Linked DNA regions of Homo sapiens: region 2 is linked to region 1. A link means that fine-mapping ties the variant in region 1 to the expression of a gene that starts in the linked region. Tissue or cell type: sun-exposed skin. Region 1 holds a variant in brackets; the other region holds the start of a gene. All regions are shown on one strand. Distances are between the middles of the regions.

Region 1 (2,827 bases):
TCTATCTATTATGAAAAAACATCAAGAAAGCCAATCTACAGTTAGATAATAAACAGCACCTACTGAACTCTCCATATATGTGTGGCACTAATTGTTACAATCACTTACAGTCAAGTTTGAAGTTTAAAAAAAATCTCAATTTCACTCAAAACCTACTTGAATGATATTTTCACTCAAAGGCACCTTCCAGGTTTTCAAATAGTAAAAGGCACACCAAAGTTTTCAGGAAGGCTAAATATTCCCAGGCAGCAATAAAAATAAGTTTGCATTTCCAAGAAAAAGAGCTTCTCAGCTGAGCCAGATCTGTGGAATTAGAAAAAAAAAAAAGGTGTATAGTTAACATCTTTTCCAGATGTTAGCACAGAACCAGAGGGCTTTTTTTCCCTCCCACATAGCAAAAACACCTGGAAATATTAGGAGTCTCTGGGATGAGAAATATTCTTTCACTCTTCTGAATATTTCGGCCGTTCTAGTTGATGCTAGAAGGAAATTTTAGGAAAAAATTCTAGGAGTCATTTTCATTGACTTTAGGGGAAAAGAAACTTATCACATAAATATTATTCTTATGCCAATGAATAGATTTTTAATTCTTAAAGTGGTATTTAGCTGTTAATAAGCAGGAGGATGTAACTAGGCACACACGTAACTAGGCACACAAGTGGCATGGAGACTTAACCGTTCAGAGATGAATTGTGCTGCTGCCTTTGTAATCCAATAGCTGAAGACCTTGGCCAGGTTTCTTAACCTCCTAAATTCTGTTTCCACAAGGGCATGCTTGAAGGGAATATCAGTTTTCTCTAATGCTGAACTTCTATGATTATATTATGTATTTGTCCACAGTGTCTTCTAGTAATAGATGAAGAACAGATACACATACACACACATATGTACACGTGTGTATACAGACACACACGTATATTATACACACATAAACATATATACATATGTGTTTTATATATTCATATAATTTATATATAAATGTATATAAATATTTCATTTCCAACTCTAATATGTAAGTTTTATATGTATGTTTTATATTATATATTTAATATAATATAAAATATTATATATTTTAACATACAAAATATTTTATGTACTATTAAAATATATTACATAATTTATAATATACATTATATAAAATATATATTATGTATATTTAAAATTTTTTATTTTAATAGGTTTTTGGGAAACAGATGGTGTTTGGTTATATGAGTAAGTTCTTTAGTGGTGATTTGTGAGATTTTGGTGCACCCATCACCCAAGCAGTATCCACAGAACCCCATTTGTAGCCTTTTATCCCTCACCCCATTCCTACTCTTTTCCCCCAAGTTCCCAAAGTTTATTGTATCATTCTTATGCCTTTGCATCCTCATATCTTAGCCCCCAACTCATGAGTGAGAACATACGACATTTGGTTTTTCCTTCCTGGGTTACTTCACTTAGAATAATGCTCTCCCATCCAGGTTGCTGCAAGTGCCATTAATTCATTCCTTTTTG[T/C]GGCTAAGTAGTATTCCTTTTTATGGCTAAGTGTATATATATATATATATATATAATAGTTTCTTTATCCACTCATTGATTGATGGGCATTTGGGCTGGTTCCATATTTTTGCAATTGCGAATTGTGCTGCTATAAGCATGTATGTACAAGTATCTTTTTCTTATAATGACTTCTTTTCCTCAGGGTAGATACCCAGTAGTGTGACTGGTGGATCAAATGATAGTTCTACTTTTAGTTCTTTAAGGAATCTCCACACTGTTTTCCATATTGGTTGTACTAGTTTACATTCCCACCAGCAGTGTAAAAGTGTTCCTTGTTCACTGCATCCATGCCAACATCTATGATTTTTTGATTGTGGTCATTCTTGTGAAAGTAAGGTGGTATTGCATTGTGGTTTTGATTTGCATTTTCGTGATCATTAGTGATGTTGAGCATTTTTTCATATATTGGTTGGCCATTTGCATATCTTCTTTTGAGAATTGTCTGTTTACATCCTTAACCCAGTTTTGATGGGATTGTTTGTTTTTTTCTTGCTGATTTGTTTGAGAGCCTTGTAGATTCTGAATATGTGTCCTTTGTCAGATGTATAGATTGTGAAGATGTTTCTCCCACTCTGTGGGTTGTCTGTTTACTCTGCTGTTTCTTTTACCATGCAAAAGCTCTTTAGTTTAATTAAGTCCCACCTATTTATCTTTGTTTTTGTTCCATTTGCTTTGGGGTTCTTGGTCATTAAATCTTTGCCTAAGCCAATGTCTAGAAGGGTTTTTCTGATGTTATCTTCTAGAACTTTTATAGTTTCAGGTCTTAAATTTAAGTCCTTGATCCATGTTGAGTTGATTTTTATATAAGGTGAGAGATGAGGATCTGGCTTCATTCTCCTCCATGTGACTTGCCAATTATCCCAGCACCATTTGTTGAATAGGGTATCCTTTCTTGCTTTACGTTTTTGTTTGCTTTGTCGAAGATCAGTTGGCTGTAAGTATTTGGGTTTATTTCTATTCTGGTCCATTGGTCTGTGTGCCTATTTTTATAACAGTACCATGCTGTTTTGGTGACTATGGCCTTATAGTAGAGTTTGAAATCAGGTAATGTGATGCCTCTAGATTTGTTCTTTTTGCTTGGTCTTGCTTTGGTTATGTGGGCTCTTTCTTAGTTCCATATGAATTTTAGGATTTTTTTTTGTAGTTCTGTGAAGAACGATTGTAGCATTTTGATAGGAATTGCATTGAATTTGTAGATGCTTTTGGCAGTATGATCAATTTCACAATATTGATTCTACCCATCCATGAGCATGGGATGTGTTTCCATTTGTTTGTGTCATCTGTGATT
Region 2 (2,827 bases), 26 kb after region 1:
TAGCTATATATTTCAGTTTGTGAAATAAACTAGTATTTAGAACAAGCAATTGAAAGCCGCAAATAAAGATGATGAAACAAGTTGGTAAATACTTTTTCTAAGCAAACTGGTTGTAGATTTAGCATTGTTTAAATTACTGTCAATTTTTTCTTATGAGGAGTGATTTCATCATTTGTTTAAAACCTGGCTTTTGACACAGTTTTTCTGAAGTCTTTAGAAATTTGAAAAATTATCTCGCATGACTCTGTATTTCATGAAATACCAATATTTTAACATTTCCCTGTAAACAATAAAACGTACTAATATGGATTATGAATGTGAACAAATTGTGAATGGACTTTTTAAGAAAGTAGATTAATTAAATATCTGTAACCAGAAAATACATTTTTAAAATGTAGGTTTGTGTAGTTTTACTTCTATACCTTGCCACATAACATTTTGTGATAGACAAATGCTCTTTGTTTAGAATTTCTCTTGTAGAGAAAGCTTCATTCAGTTGTTTCTTTCCCTTTATTTATATGCCTGTGTGCATGATGTCTAAATCACTGGTCAGGAGTTCCCTGGGGATTTTCGTATCTGACTACATGGCAAGATTCCAGACCCAAAGTAAACCTTTCAGAGAGTGGGAATGAGTGGGAGGATGTCGCCCTGGGCATGGTGCTTAGGAGGCCAGATTTCCCTAAACCTGCTCTGCTGGGAGCCCTAGGAAGCCTCAGATGCAGTCTGCTGTCCAGGTATACTCACAGGGTATGGGGTGGGGGACTGTCAATTTCTGAATAGACTTTGTCTCATCCACACGACAACATATTTTAATTTTAAAGGCGAACGTCAACCTATTTAGAAAACTATAAGTGTGACTGATGCATTCATTATTTAATAACTCCGGGGTGAAACTTGAGGTGAACGGTTTCACCCTTTCATACTCAGGAATGGAACTAGTCCTCGGTACCGTGCACAGTCTGACCTCACGCTCGCACGCTGGGCTCCCGGCCTCCTGGCAGTGCACTTAAGTGTACCCCGCGTGTGCCCGGCGGACTCCCGTGCACACCGCCGCCGTGCTGTTGAGTACGAAAGACCCCCGAGAGGAGCTCGCAGATGAGAGCCTAGCTGTTGCTGTGAGACTGACTGCGGGTGGCAGCCGGCAAGAAGGAACTGCCAGTACCGACCCTGGCGCTCCCCACCAACTGCGGCGCAGCCTCCTCTGCGGTGCCCGCCCTTCGGCATCACTGCAGTCCCTGTAGCAAAGCTAACTTTAAAAATTTAAATAAAATAATAATTTTTTAAAGGCCCGAAAACTCCGGCTCCCACCCCTCCCCCAGCCTGCCCGGCGGCGGCGGCGCTCAGTGAGTGACACGGCGAGCGTGAGCCGCGGCCCCAGCCGGGCCGAGCGCGCTGCCTGAGCTGAGCCGCCGTAGGTGAGGGGCCCGCGTCCCCGCCCGCCCTGGGCGCCGCGCCTGGCACTGATCCTGCCGGTCGCCCACTGTCGCCGCCGCCGCCGCCCGCGGGCACCATGACAGCTCTGAGCGCTGGGGTTACAGGTTGGTCACCGCCGCCGGTGCCCGGGAGGCTGCGGCGCGGCCGGCTCCGTGCCCTGCGCCCGAGGCCCGCGATGCGCGCTCGTTAGTTCCTTGGCCGGTCCGGGCCAGGACGGCTCAGGGGCGCTGGGGCTGCGAGAGGGGCTGCTAGAGGGGCTGCGGGCGGGGGCCCCGCGCGGGGGAGGGGTGGGGAGGGGCGCCTCCACCCGAGAGCGGGGCGGTGGGGTCCTTGCCGGCCTGGCCGGGGCGCGGGAGCCGCGATGCGCCCTCCCTATTCCTGCGCGTGGGTGTCGGGGGCGCCTGCCGCGGGATGCCCCTGGGCTGGCTTGGGAAGCCCAGGGCCGGCGACACCTCGGGCCTGCCCCGCCTGGGCATCTAGCAGGTGTTGGGGGGCAGGTGGCTGAGGACGAGGCCACTGGGCATCACTACAGCGCTGCACCTGCCCCCTCGGCACCAGGGCCGCTGCCTGGGTAAACCTCTGGGCCAACGCGCGGGTGGGGAGGTGGGGGTGGGCAGCCTGGCTCCAGCAGGTCTCCGCGGGGGCTCCGCGGCCTTGCCCCACCCCCATGCTCCTGTGGATTGCTCCTTGCTAAATGTCCCTTATGATATTCATTGGCCTTGTTAAGCAGCCGTCATTAGGGTGGCTACACCGAACGCAAAACAGTGTCCTGCCAAGCAACACCATTTTGTCACTGAATCTTTAAGACACCAGCAAGGATGGCCTGGCTGGGATCCCTCTGGGGGCCCAGATCGCAGTCATTTTGCTGACTTAATGTTCCTCTTTCAGGATGGTGTGAGAATGCTGAACTCAGACCCTTAGTGCTTGAAATACCTTAGAATAAATCTTTCAGTTTCAGGTACAATTTTTCAGACACTGTATTATTAAGGATGTGTGAATACACGCTCACTTTCAGGCCTCAGAAGGTTTTACTCTTAATCTGGTGTTCGTGTGGTCATCAGCTAGGCCCGACTGCCCTGGTGGTGAAATGTGGGTTGAGGACCAGTGACCTTCGTGTTAGTAGTTGGTGGATAACACCTCTAATAGGGGATCAAAAATTAACAGGTGGCGATTTTGAAATATATATGTATGTATATATATATATATATGTGTGTGATTTGTATGTTCATAACTACAACTGTGATTTGATATGGCCTGGGAGAGGAGCGGTTTCACTATGGTAGTTACCCCTGAGGCAGATGCATCTCAGGACTGGCTTTTTAAATTCAAAGATAAGGTTTCCACAGTTCTAAATAAAAATCATGGCTTCCCAAACATCTGCAACGAGAAACAT

Evidence for each region. PIP is the estimated chance that this variant, and not a neighbour inherited with it, causes the effect.
Region 2: NALCN starts here. The variant in region 1 is fine-mapped to the expression of NALCN in sun-exposed skin (GTEx, PIP 0.96).

Annotation. Positions count from the first base shown.
Region 1 is chr13:101,440,804-101,443,630 of GRCh38, reverse strand. No RefSeq gene overlaps it. Among named protein-coding and RNA genes, the nearest start is that of ITGBL1, 10 kb to the left of the region's middle. The variant T/C (reference allele first, on the strand shown) is at 1,498.
Region 2 is chr13:101,415,024-101,417,850 of GRCh38, reverse strand. NALCN (sodium leak channel, non-selective) reads left to right here and starts at 1,343. Exons shown (of 44, transcript NM_052867.4): 1 at 1,343-1,538. RefSeq lists enhancers at 1,441-1,991, 1,992-2,542.